4 linked regions of the Homo sapiens genome follow. The protein of the gene in region 2 interacts with the protein of the main gene of each other region in a biochemical or structural test. Each region holds a gene or a part of one and is shown on either strand. Other genes may lie near its edges.

Region 1 (3,500 bases), on a different chromosome or scaffold from region 2:
TGTTAAAGCTTCTAAAAGGAATATATCACCCGTAAGGTATAATTCTGATTGTTTTCTTTATATTTCTGACAAGTGAAACTGTTCCCTAAGGAAGATATACTTTTCTTTTTAACAGATTTTGCAAGAATTTATCAGGATCAAGGTAGATGTGTATATCGTTGGAACTGATGGTAAGTGGCTTTATTTTTGTTTTATGTTCTGACAATCACTTCAGGCTCACTGCCAACTCTCAGTCTAGACAGCCTCTCCAAAGAATGAGTATTTTATATAATCATGATGAAAATCTAATATGCAGCCAGCCCAATAAAAATCCCTATGGAAACAGCATCTTTGTATTTTAGTTATGTTGATATGTAATTAAATACATTCTACAATTTGAATCCTGATTTCATAGGCAACAAAGGAGGAACATGTTAACTATTTTTCACTCTAAACTTCCTGAAAAGGTAGCCTTGTTTTCTGTCTCTCTTCCTCCCTTCCCTTGCACAATCCAGCCCATAACAATTTGGTTGAGCTTCACCTGCTGATGAGACCATCCTTGCCAAGGTTATCAGCGATGTCCAGATTGTTAGGATTAACGGCCTTCATCTCAGGTCCTTCTGCAGCAGCTTACCTGAGCATCTGGCACTCTCTCTAGCATTTGTCTTTGAAACTCTCTCCCTCCCTGACTCTGGCAGGACAGTTCTTATTCACCTCCTACCTCTCAAACATCTCCTCAGGGTCTGACATTGGTTCTTCTCCCACTTTCAGTCTCCCCCAAGCTTCAACCGTACACTCTATACCATAGTTCTAATTCCACAGACTCTTTCTAGTCAATTTCCTACATGTTTATGATTTCATGTGCATCTACTTGTTAATGAATCCCCAAACTATACCTCCAGCCCAGGCCTTTCTTCTAAGCTGCAGACCAATGGACTCGACTGTGGATGTCCCCAGGCACCTCAGATACACGCTTTTAGAACTACGTATATGATTCCCCCTCCCAAAAATACTTCTTTCCTATCACAATCACTGCATCACTGCTTACCTAGTTTTCCAGATAGAAACCCTGAAACCATCACCAATTTCTGCTCTCCTTCCCTCTAGTCAATGACCAGGTCCTATAAATATTTCCTCTTAAATCAGTCTCTTCCTCTCCATTTCCAGAACTTTAATCTAGACCCTTCTCACTTCTCAACTAGGCCTTCTAGAAGGACTTTCTAACTAATATCCTTGCCCATCCCTATAATGCTCTCCCATCCCATTTTCTGAAAGAAGCCTTCTTCAGGAATTTTTCCGACAATAACTGAAAACATCCTTGCTTCCCCAGGCAGAGCACCGGGTCTTCAGACTGTTTGTATCTACAGAGTACGCACGTATCACATAATTTTGCAGTTCAGTTTCTGTCCCTACTAGACTATATCTCTTCCAGGGCAGGTATTGTTCCTGCTTACCTTCTTCCTGTCTCTTCCCTAGATCCTAGGACATGATGGGCATTCAGTAAAGACTTATTGAATACCTACTATTTATCAGGCACAGTTCTGGGTGCTGGGAATATAGCAGTGAATCTGACAAGCCTCTGTCCTCATGAAGCTTATAGTCTCATAGAAAAGCCACATAATAAACAAACAAAAGCATATTTCAGGTAGTGATAAGTGCTAAGAGAAAAGCAGAGTTAAGAAACAGAGGCTGGGAGCGGTGGCTCATGCCTGTAATCTTAGCACTCCAGAAAGCTGAGGCAGGCAGATCACTTAAGCCCCAGCGTTTGAGACTAGCCTGGGCAACATGGTGAAACCTCGTCTCTAAAAAAAAAAAAAAATGTTAGCTGGGTGTGGTGGCATGTGCCTGTAGTCCCAGCTACTCAGGAGGTTGAGATGGAAGGATCGCTTGAGCCTGGGAGGTCAAGGCTGCGGTAAGCTGTGATCGTGCCACTGCACACTAGCCTGGGTGACAGAGCAAGACCCTGTCTCAAATCAAAAAAAAAAAAAAAAAAAAAAAAAAAAAAAAAAAAAAAAAAAAAAAAAAAAAAAAAAAAAAAAAAAAAAAAACCCCTTTTTTTTTTTAAAAAAAAAAAAAAAAAAAAAAAAAAAAGAAAGAAAAGAAAGAGAGAAAGAAAGAAAGAGAAAGAAGAAAGAAGAAAGACGAAATAAGAAAGAAAGAAAGAAAAAAGAGAGAAAGAAAAAGAAAGAAAAGAGAAAGAAAGAAAGAAAGAAAGAAAGAAAGAAAGAAAGAAAGAAAGAAAGAGAAAAAAGGAAGGAAGGAAGGGAGGGAGGGAGGCAGAAAGAAAAACTGGTGATCAGGGATGTCCAGCAATATGACATTTTGAGTACAGACTAGAACGAAGTGAGGCAGTCAACCTTGACAGTACTTAGGGGGAGCTTTTTAGGGAGAGGAGACAAGTGGTACACATATCCTTCGAAAAGTATAAAATTGGCATCCTTAATCTCTCCCTTTCTACTGGATCCTGTCCCTAAAATATACAGACATATTCTAGTTTCAAGACTTTTAAAAAAAACTTTTAAGTTCAGGGGTACACATGCAGGTTTGTTACATAGGTAAACTCGTGTCATGGGGGTTTATTGTATAGATTATTTTGTCACCCAGATATTAAGCCTAGCACCCATTAGTTACTTTTCCTGATCCTTTCCTTCCTCCCACCCTTCACCCTCCGATAGGCCCCAGTGTGGGTTGTTCCCCTCCATGTGTCCATACGTTCTCATCATTTAGCTCCCACTTATAAGTGAGAATATGCAGTATTTGGTTTTCTGTTCCTGCATTACTTTGCTAAGGATAATGGCCTCCAACTCCATGTACCTGCAAAGGATATTGTTTTTTTTTAATTTTTTTATATGTTTTTATATAGTATTCCACGGTGTATATGTACCACATTTTCTTTATCCAGTCTATCACTGATGGGCATTTGAGTCCATGTCTTTGCTATTGTGAATAGTGCAGCAATCAATGTATGCATGCATGCGTCTTTATAAAAGAATGATTTATATTCCTTTGGGTATATATCCAGTAATGGAATTGCTGGGTCAAATGGTATTTTTGTCTTCAGCCCTGTGAGGAATCGCCACACTGTGCTTATACACTGTTGGTGGGAGTGAAAATTAGTTCAACCATTGTCAAGGCTTCCTTATAATTAAAAACATCCCCTTGATCCCAGAAACCTTTAATTTACTAACAATTTTACCCTTTCCTCATCATCCCAGATATTTTGGAAAGTATCTGTTCCTGCTGTCTCTGCTGCCTGGCATTCTTTTCAGTCTTTATCAAAGATTATCACCTTCCTTCCCATTGCATGCCACCCACTCCATCCCAGATCCTGGTGGCCACAATGCCCTCCACGCTCCCTCTCCCTCTGTCACTGAAAGCTTTCTGTAAACAGAAGAATCCATCTTCATAACTGTGTACCTTCTCTTCCTCCACTTTTCTGCAAATCCTAGGCACGTTTAGACGGTATCTGCTCAAGTTTTCCCAGATACCCACCAAGAGGAAAATTTCTCAGAATTTTCATA
Region 2 (3,500 bases):
TTGAAGCCAATGATCATTTACCATTCTGAAAACCCTAAGGCCCTTAAGAATTATGTTAAATCTATTCTGCCTGTGCTCAGTAAATAAACAACAAAGCCTAAATGACAGCACGTTTGTTTACAGTATGGGTTAATGAATATTTTAAGTCCACTGATGAGACCCACTGCTCAGAAAAAAAGATTCATTTCAAAATACTACTACTCACTGACAATGCATCTTGTCACTCAAGAGCTCAGATGGAGGTACACAAGGAGATTAGTGATTTTTTTCAGGCCTGCTAATACAACATCCATTCTGTGGCCCATGGATCAAGGAAAAGTTTCAACCTTCAAGTCTTGTTATTTAAGAAACACATTTCATAAAGCTACAGCTGACATAGACAGTGATTCCCTAACAGATCTGTGAAAAGAAAATTGAAAACTGTCTTGAAATGATTCATCATTCCAGATGCCATTAAAACCATCTGTGGGCCAGGCATGGTGACTCACGCCTGTAATCCCAACACTTTGGGAGGCTGAGGTGGGAGGATCACTTGAGCCTAGGAGTTCAAGACCAGTCCAGGCAATGTATTGAGACTATCACTTAAAAGAAAAAAAAAATTGTGAAGCATGGGAGGAGGTCAAAATATCAACACTAACAGGAGTTTGAAAGAGGTTGAATCCAACCTTTATGAATGACTTTGAAGGGTACAACACTTCAGTGAAGGAAGCAACTGCATGTGTGGTAGAAATAGCAAGAGAACTAGAATTAGAAATAGAGCCTGGGCTGGCTCCCAGCACTTTGGGAGGCTAAGGTGGGAGGATTGCTTGGGCCCAGGAGTTCAAGATCAACCTGGGCAACATAGCAAGGCCTCGTCTCTACAAAAAAAAAAAAAAAATCAGCCACGCATGATGGCATGCACCTGTAGTACCAGCTACTCAGGAGGCTGAGGTGGGGTCACTTGAGCCTGGGAAGTAGAGGCTGCAGTGGGCTGTGATTACGCCACTGCACTCCAACCTGGGCAACAGAATGAGATCTTGTCTCAAAGAAAAAGAAAAAAAAAAAAAAGGAAAGAAAAAAAAAAGAAATGAAGATGGAGCCTGAAGGTGTGACTAAATTGCTGCAATCTCATGATAAAACTTGAGTAGATGAGAAGCTGCCTCTTATGCATTAGTAAAAAAAGTGGTTTCTTGAGACAACCTGCTCCTGGTGAAGATGATGTACATATTGTTCAAATGACAACAAAGAATTTAGAATACCACATAAGCTTAAGCTTAGTTGATAAAGCAGCAGCAGAATTTGGGAGGACTGACACCAATTTTGAAAGAAGTTACTGTAGGTAAAATGCTATCAAACAGCATCACATGCTAAAGAGAAATCTTTCATGAAAGAAAGTCAATTGATGTGGCAAACTTCATTGTCTTATTTTAAGAAACTGTCACAGCCACCCCAATCTTCGGCAACTACCACCCTGATTGGTCAGCAGCAGCTATCAACACTAAGGCAAGACCCTCCACCAGCTAAAAGATGACAACTAGCTGAAGGCTCAGATGACTGGTTAGTATTTTTTAGCAATAAAGTATTTTTAAATTAAGGCATATATCTTTTTTTAGACATAAGGCTATCACACACAATAAACTACTATATGTGTAAACAACTTTTATGTGCACTAGGAAATAAAATTCACGTGACTCACTTTATTGGGATATTGGCTTTACTGCAGTAGTCTGGAACCAAACCTGCAGTATCTGGGAGGTATGTCTGTACCTTAACAGTTTTTGTTGTTTTAGTGCACTTAATTGTCCATGGAGTATTTAAGTCTGAAATTTTCCATAAGAATATCTTTGCAAATTGAGAAAGAACTAGCTCAGGAAAGACAATGTTCTGTGGAAGCTGAATCTATAAGTAGGAGAAATCTCTCACACACACACTGTGTTAGAAAGATATCTAAATGGCACACTTTACAACATGTGTCTGTACTTGATGTCTGGCTCACTAGGATTATGCCTGAGTTGATAGTTTCACCTAAGGACGACAGATGGTTCAAAATAAAGGAACCATTCATTTTGTCCCAGAAACACAAGGAGTTCTTTACTCATTATTTACTCATCAATTACACGATGCAAACAAATGATTTCAACATACTAATTCTCATCCCTTTGTATATTTTTCACAACGCTTTGCACCCAGTAGGTATTCAAGGAAAAATAAGCCAAACAAATAATTTTATCCCCTTCTATTTTACAGCTTATTAATTTGGCTTCTAGGGCACCACCACTCTCTCGGTTTTTCTCCTACTGCACTGTTTGCTTCCACTCATTCTCCTTTGCTGATTTCTACTCTTCTCCCCGACCTTATACTGATCTCATGTCCCATGGTACTCACTGTCCTTGGTCCTCTTCTATTCTCTACGTACACTCACTACTTGGTAATTTTACCCAGTCTCATGACTTTCAATATCTATAAACTGATGACTATAAAATTGTTATCTCCAGCTCAGGCTTCTTAGTAATACAAATTTGTATATGCAACCTCTTACTCATTTCTAACAGACATTTCAAACTTGACATGTTCAAAACTGAATTTCTGATCTTGCCCCTAAAACCTACTCCTCCTGCAGCTTTTCCCATCTCGCTGATGGCAGCTCAAACCTCTCTGACAATAACTCCAACACTCCAGTTATTTAGGCCAAAAACCTTGAAGTCATGCTTGATTCTTCTCTTTTCCTCAAGGTCCACATCTGATCTATTAGCAAATCCTGTTGGCTAACCCTACAAAATATTTCTAAAACTTAACCACTTCTCACCACTTCCATTACTATCACTATCACTTTAGTCAGAGTGACCATCATCTCTAACCTGATTTTATGCAATAACAGCCGTTAACCTCCTGCTTTTGCCCTTAAACACCTACAGTCTATTCTCAACACAGCAGCCAGGAGACTACCCAGTAAGGTAGTCAGGTGTAGTGGCACATGCCTGTAGTTCCAGCTACTTGGGAGGTTGAAGCAGGAGAATCTGTTGAGCCCAGAAATTAGTGACCAGACTGGGCAATATAGTGAGACCCTCTTTAAAAACAAAAAGGTAGGCCAGGCGTGGTGGCTCACGCCTGTAATCCCAGCACTTTGGGAGGCCAAGGCGGGCAGATCACGAGGACAAGAGATTGAGGCCATCCTGGCTAACACGGTGAAACCCCATCTCTACTAAAAACACAAAAAATTAGCCGGGCGTGTTGGCACACACCTGTAGTCCCAGCTACTCAGGAGGCTGAGGCAGGAGAATCGCTTGATCTCAGGTGGCAGAGATTGCAGTGAGCCCAGACTGCACCACTGCACTCCAGCCTGGGTGACAGAGCAAGACTCTGTCTCAAAAAAAAAAAAAAAAAAAAAGGTTAAGTAGGTCAATATCACTCCTCTGCTTCAAAATCTTTCAGTGCTCCCCCTCACTGAAAAGTCAAATAGGATGTGCCCTATGCTATGCATCATTATCTCCACTCCTCCTTCATCTCTTACTACTCTCACA
Region 3 (3,500 bases), on a different chromosome or scaffold from region 2:
GCTGATTTTCTTTAAGGGGCTTTGTATACTACTGGGTCCGTACTCAGTGCTCAGAAACTGTTACCTTACTACTGGTGTTATCATGAAGCCTGAATGAGATGGGGGAGTCAGTGTGGCTGAGGAAAAGATGGTTGACCTTCCCAGCATTTGTCTCACCAATGGCACAGTATATTGGGGTAAAACTATGGACAGTGTATCAGGGTAAAAATAAATAGCTTCATTTGCTCCCTCTGCATTAATCTTGATTCTCCTACTTATCACGCTGACCACCCTGAAAACCTGTCTCAGTGGTCTTCAACTCTGACTGCCCCTTAGAATCACCTGGCCTCACCCTAGGCAATTAAATCAGAATGTTCCCAGGGGCATTTTATGTGTAATTGGGATTGAGTGGTTACTGGCCCTTCACTTTCTTGCTCTTAGTAGAATGAGTCCAACTTGCACAGTCCCAGAAACTACAAGCATTTTCTAGGAGCAAAAACTGTTTCCTAAGGAAGGTACAGAAAGAACAGGGCATGGTGCTGGAAGTTTAGAGTCCTAGTCCTGCTGCAAGTTGGAGACATGATCCAGTAAGCCACAATACCTCTGTATTCTGGTTTCCTCATTTATCAAATAAGCACCATAGAATCTTCTATCTCAAACGGTAATGGGAAATTTAAAATAGGAAGTAGGTAAGACTTTTTAAACATTTGAAAGTGACACAAGTGTGATTTGTTAGTGTTTCCATCAGATGTTCCCATCAGAATTCAATAAAATCCTTGTTGTGCTACTTACTGGCTGTGGGGCTTTGCACAGCTCATTTTGCTTTTTGAATCCCAGTTTTTCCTCATCTATAAGATGGAGCTACTTACTCTTCAAATTGCATAATAGTTCCCATTGCTAGCAGCAAAGAAAACAATGGGAACTAAAATACACAAGATATAGTATTATTGTGTTGGCTCTTATTATTGGTACTATTATTCCAATGCTGTGGATAAGCTCACTCAAGCCCTTGATTTCAAGCGGTGGAATCTCATAGTCTCTCATATTAGCGGATGCTGGCACTGGCGTGGCCATAAACAGGTGCAACACTCCTGCCTGCTAAGCTTTTGGATTTTAAAATGAATGTCAGAGAATCTTTGGTTACCAACCAAGCTGCTGAGGTTGACAGGTACAATTCACTTCACTGCCTGAGACCCGCCCCCTTAGCTTCCATTACCTGGGCTTTTCTGACTATTAGGTGTGTGACAGAAGATCAATACTGGCGAGAGATGAATATATGTAATCAACCTAACAGAAGCAAGTTGAAATCCTTTGGTGTGTGGTATCATAAAAGGAGGAAGGTCAATAGGGACACTGGGTCGGACTGAAAAGCAGCCTTGCCCCAAAGCAAATCCTGGCACTTTCCTCTGGCCCACCTTTTCCCTCCAAGCTACAGCACATGGTACCTTTCTCTAGAGCCCAGAGGCTTTATGTTCTCTAGCAAAGTGGTCTGCATCCTTACGTTGATCATAAGTTCAGTGATTATAAAAGTTGAGGTCTTTGGGAAACCCAAGAATTAGAGTCGTGGACTTGAAAGTAAGAAATAGGGAAAACAGCACAGTTATTTCTGACTTTTTGGCTCTACTGTTTATAGTTTTGCCTGTGCAAAGCAATACAAATTCATGTTGTCAGCCAGTGACATAAACAGATTTTTCTTTCCTGAAGCGAATCTGATAATTATGATGTTGTAACATATCTTGCACCACCCAAAACAGTAGATTGAGGATGTCAGGTTTCAGTACAACAAAATGGAACAAGTCTTTTCAGAAAGCACGAACTGTCATTTCAAATGAGACTCTGAAATATGTTGCCACTTACCTACTGATATGGTCCAAACAGCAATGATTTTCAGAAATGCCTTAGTTCTGGAGTTGAAGCGGCTGTGGTGGATGGGATTCTGGATGGCGACGTAGCGGTCCAGCGAGATGGCGCAGAGGTGCATGATGGAGGCCGTGGAGAAGAGCACGTCCAGGTAAATCCAGACTGCACAAAGCTTGCTCGGCAGAGGCCACCGGTACCCTATGAGGCAGAAGGTTGGTGTCAGTGAGCAACCCTGTGCCTCCTGGAGCACATGTATCCCTATCCTATGACAATTTCCAGCTCTGGGACAGGCACAGGTGGTGGCAAAGGGCAACACAATATATTTTTAGTATTTGAAAAAAGCCCACTGGCAACTGTACTTAACTATGATAAGCTAGCACTGGCTGATGAATGCAGGGTTTGAAAATTTCTAGTGTCTGGAGTTATGTGAGTGTGGCACGGTAAGCTTGGATGGTCTCTATTTGGGGGTTCTCTTTCTTCCCCCTTACGCCTGGCAAAACATTTCTTTTGTTAATGGCTTATGTCAAAATTTGTGTTTTGGCTCCTCTTCTGGAGCACCTCTCACACTGTACTGTCAGGATTTAGTCACATATTTCTCTGGATTGTATTTCCCTAAGGTTAGTCTCACCTCTTAGTCATTATTATAACCATCCAGTCCCATACAGTGATGGCAATAAATTGCATTAGTGCAAATGACTAAATGACTAAAAATTCAGATTGTGAATATGTCTGTTTGTAAAAATGAAAAATAATGATCTAATAATGCTTTGGGTGCCAAACTCAAATTTGGGGTATGTGTAGGGAGAGCTGAAGACAAGGGTGAAGAAAAATAAAGAAAGGTGTCCTTGCTCTGAGCTTTGTTTTAGGGAGGCATTTCTCAAACTTTAGTGAGCATCAGACTCTGCCACACCTCTTAAAACACACACTGCTGGACCTCCGTCCAGAGGTTCTGATGCAGTTAGTAGGGAGCAGGCTGTAGAATTTGCATCTGAATTAGCAAGCTCCCGGGTGATGCTGATGCTGCTGGTCCAGGGACCACGCTTTGTGAATAGCTGCTTTAGGGTAGTGGCTCTCACCCCTGGCTGCACATCAGTATCAGCTGGAGAGCTTTAGAGAAGGTCCTGATGCCCATGCCAAACCCAGCCCAATTAAATCATGTTTGGAGGGTGGGCTGAGGTGGACATCAAATGTCAAAGCGTTTGCAAAGCTTTTTCCAAGCTCCCCAGACAATTCCAATGTAAGAGATACTGCAGGTCACCTGCTATATGAGGAAGGTTAGAGTGTGCTTTATGGACATAAACAAAGTGTCCTGGTTTTGTGTTTTGGAGGGGGATTAAGCAGTTATGTAAACCTTAATTAGTTTTGATCACAGTATAAGCAGCGGAGTTAGATCTGCCTGCATGTAAGAAGGAAAATTTTAAAGTCCACTTTTCTTATTACAGACCCACAAAGCCGAACAAACTCCAACGCAAACGTACACTCTCTACCAAAATGCCACAAGGGATATTTAGACAAGTAAAGGGCGTAGGTACAAGCCTAATTTACAGCCATTCACATGTATTATTTGCAAAGAGCTTGAGCCGAAAGGAAAGCCTTTTCCTTTGCAGCGCCTTATGGGGGAAGCCACGCTCTGTCTGTTCGGAACAGATGTCGGCCCTCGG
Region 4 (3,500 bases), on a different chromosome or scaffold from region 2:
TACTTTACATCAGTTACCTTCAAAGCCTGTCTCATTCTGTAATTTAAACCTTGAGGGAAGGAGGCTTGTTTTCCTTGTTCTTGCATCCCCAGAATGCACCACAATATGTACATACATACATAAATGTAGATGATAAGGAGGATTTAATGTATATTTGATTCTCTTAAAATGGAATAATCACAAGGGGAGGAGCTATGTGGTTTCCAGGAAGTACCTTAAGTTACCAAAGTTTTTAAAGGCTTTTTTGTTTGAACCTAGAAGGAATATTAAGTAGACAGTAAACAGACTTCAATACGCTATTTAGATGAGAAGGCTGGAGTCACGTATATTAATTATCTTCTGAACGTAAAGGATGCTGATGTGAACTGAGCTCTATTGCCTATGAAGAATTAGAAGTTTTCCTTTGAAATTTTAGACCTTTTTTCTCACTGCAGTCTCCCTCATTTGCTACATATTTCACAGTCTGCTCTTCCTCACTACAGATGCAATAACCTGCTTGACATTCTCCTCTGGAAAAGGAAAAGAACTACGAGAGGAAGCATGGCACTTGGATGCAGAAATTGAGCACCCTCCATGTGATCCAGAGAACAGCAACTCATACGTCTTCTGGAACCTTCTACCAACAGTAGAACCTCTTAGCTTTATGGAGAAAACAGAGTCATTCTGTCCAGAGGTGCCACCCCAAGACTGTGGAGCCTCTCCTCGGCCCTCGCTGAGGAGCCTGCCAAAGAACCAGGGGAGTCTCCTCCAGTTTGACCGGCAAGCCCCAGGCCGCATCTCCACCTCGCCCACTTTGAGGAGATTAAGGACCCGTGGCTGTGGGACAAGGCAGGATGCCTGGCAGGTGACCACCTGGGGAAGCTGGGGAGCTCCTGTGGGCTTCCCATGTTACCTTTCGAAGAGCCTGCCAGGAAGCCCAAAGGATTCTTCACACTTGCTGTCACCCTTGAGACTCCACTCAAGATTGACCTCTGAACCTGAAAGGGCCCTGAATGCAGCTGACTCACTGGAGCCCCAAACCCGGCCCACTGACAAGTATCTCCCTCCTGAGCTTCAGCCTGTCAATGAAGGGTCCCTTCACCAGGCCTCTCTTCGGCAGCAAGAAGGCCACTTCCTGCCCAGCCCCACCCTACGACACCCTAGTCCTCAGGTAACACAGCTCTAAGCCTCCGGCCTCTCAGTTGCTGAACCACAAAGCAAAATAGATCTCAGAGTTGCTTAGTTCCCCCAAGGGCCAGTAGATCCTAAAAAGGAGACAGCACAGGAAGTCACACTGAGGGGACACATTCTCTTTAGGAAGCATTGGCTCTTAAGTGAAAGGAGGGCAGCAATCTGGGGAGGAAAGAAAATGATCTCGCTCACTTTCTTCTGTCCTTAGAGGCACTTTGAGAAAGGATGCACCAAGGCCAGGCTTACCGATGGTCTGTCAGGTACCCGAGAGCAATGGGGGCCCTCTTGCAAATGCACACTATTTAAAGACAACGTCGTGTCACTGATTTAAAAGGGGAGAAAGAGCCAGTTATTCAAATTTCCAATCCCACCAAAATGTAAAACATGTTTTAACTAGGAGGGCTCATTGTTTCTCCTTTCAACATGTTTGCTTTGGAGTTTGGGATGGGTTTGAGCAAGACTAAAACATATGTTCTTAAAATTTATTTCAGGGAGAAGAATTGCACCCATCCAGGTGTGTATGCATTTATTTTCTCCGGTGCTATGACATCTGTTGACTATTTACTATTAGATTTTTATTTCTGTCCTGACATAACAAAGCTGACGGTGTGTTAACCAGTGCACTTTGTTTTATAGCACTCAAGTCACTCTTCGCATTTATAGGTGCACGAGTTTTCATTTCAAGAGTCTCCCTTTAAGAGCACAGCATTTGGGGGCAGGATACAATGCCATATGCAGTCATAGTTTTCATTTTGAATTGTCAATGTCTTGGCCCTGTGGCTTAATTAACATCCACTTAGTAATAGGTTTTGTCTGGTAGAGAAAATAGAAAGGCCAGAGATATGCAACAGCTTTTCAAAGAAAAATTTGGAGGATAAAAGAAAGGAACAAGATGTCCTGGTTAAATCTAGGGTGACCTTTAAAATAACCTGTTATGACAGACTGTGCCCTTATCCAGAATGAAGTAGACTGTGTCATTTCCAAAACCAGCTCTGAACTTTCAGCACGGCCCCCTGGTTGTAGCAATGGATCTGCCATCTCTGACAGGGATGAAGAGTTTCTGCAGCAGCAAGGGAAAGATCCATGCCCAATTTTATCTTCCTGACTTGTGGGATTGGCAGGAAAGCCCTCATTTCATTTGAAAAGTCACAGAGGATTTTTTTGGAGAAATAGCTGCTGTTTTATTACTGGACCTCAATCCTCAAGCAATAGTTTGATATTCATAGCAGTAAGGATAACATCCATGTACACATTCTTTGTTGATTTTAATCCTTGTTGGCCTAATTGTACCAACAAAGGTAGAAGATACTTACCAAGCCATAGGGAAATGCAAATTGTTATGTCTGTGTATCAGCTAGCTGTTGCTAGATAAAAAACCACTTAAAGTAACAGACAGTTATTGTTTCTTATAAATCTCTGTGTTCCCTGGGGGTGACTTGGTCTAGGCTGGGTTTAGCTGAGCAGTTCCACTCCAAATGTTCCTTATCCTGCTCATGGGATCAAAGGGCTCCCATGGGTCCATGGGATCAATTAAGCAGATTCTTTATACAGTGAAGGGAGAGGTTCAAGAGGACAAGTAGAAACATGCAAGGCCTCTTGGAGCCTGGGCTCTGAATCTGGTCTAATTTTATTGACCAAAGCAAGTCACTCAGTTGAACTCAGCGTCAGGGAATTACATGTTACCAACAGTGGGAGAGCATTGAAATGTTACATGGCAAAGTGTATGGATGTAAGGAATGGGGAAGAGTGGGGCTGTTAATGTAAATCTTCCATACATGTGAAACAGAATAAAGCTCTCAGATGAGATCTAGTTCAGTTGTGTCAAAGAAAGTGGAAAAGGGTAGTCTTAGAAAAAAAAATTATGTTTAGAGTCGAATTATTTTAATAAGATTTTGAGAAATTTTATTCCTTACCCTAAGAGCAGTGTGAAACCATTTGATGAATTGATATGATCAGATGGATGTCAGATATACCTGGGATTTAGATGCAAGTAGACTTGAGTCAAATAATTCGAATGTTCAGGTATGAGAAGTTGTTAAGTTAGATTATGATGAAGGCAGTGGGGTTAAAAAGAAGTATCTCAATGCAAGAGATATTTAGGAGATACAATCCCCCAGACTTTGTGAATGGTAGCCTATCAGGGTGAGGGAAAGGAATCTTCAAGAATGACCTCCAAGCTTCTGGCTTGTTCAACTGGGTAACCAAGGTGTCCATTCACTGACCTAGATAAACTTGGGTAAAGAAATTAAATATGAGTGGTTAGAGTGTAGGTCTTGTGTTCAGGTTTGGACATGTTGAGTTTGAGGAACTATGAAACATCTAAGTGGAGA

The links.
Region 1: the proteins of RAPGEF6 (region 2) and SLC26A3 interact in a test that uses a peptide from one of them, tested with the Homo sapiens proteins (one large-scale study listed by IntAct).
Region 3: the proteins of RAPGEF6 (region 2) and HTR2A interact in a test that uses a peptide from one of them, tested with the Homo sapiens proteins (one large-scale study listed by IntAct).
Region 4: the proteins of RAPGEF6 (region 2) and PLEKHG7 interact in a test that uses a peptide from one of them, tested with the Homo sapiens proteins (one large-scale study listed by IntAct).

The regions. Positions count from the first base shown.
Region 1 is NC_000007.14:107,768,724-107,772,223, reverse strand, and holds part of SLC26A3 (chloride anion exchanger), read left to right. Parts: intron 1-115; coding exon 116-170; intron 171-3,500. UniProt on the Homo sapiens protein: Mediates chloride-bicarbonate exchange with a chloride bicarbonate stoichiometry of 2:1 in the intestinal epithelia. Plays a role in the chloride and bicarbonate homeostasis during sperm epididymal maturation and capacitation.
Region 2 is NC_000005.10:131,628,730-131,632,229, forward strand, and holds part of RAPGEF6 (rap guanine nucleotide exchange factor 6), read right to left. Parts: intron 1-3,500. UniProt on the Homo sapiens protein: Guanine nucleotide exchange factor (GEF) for Rap1A, Rap2A and M-Ras GTPases. Does not interact with cAMP.
Region 3 is NC_000013.11:46,890,554-46,894,053, forward strand, and holds part of HTR2A (5-hydroxytryptamine receptor 2A), read right to left. Parts: intron 2,038-3,500; coding exon 1,837-2,037; intron 1-1,836. UniProt on the Homo sapiens protein: G-protein coupled receptor for 5-hydroxytryptamine (serotonin).
Region 4 is NC_000012.12:92,705,989-92,709,488, forward strand, and holds part of PLEKHG7 (pleckstrin homology domain-containing family G member 7), read left to right. Parts: intron 1-482; coding exon of another isoform or gene 483-643; coding exon 644-1,150; coding exon of another isoform or gene 1,151-1,165; exon of another isoform or gene 1,166-1,661; coding exon 1,662-1,684; coding exon of another isoform or gene 1,685-1,727; exon of another isoform or gene 1,728-2,561; intron 2,562-3,500.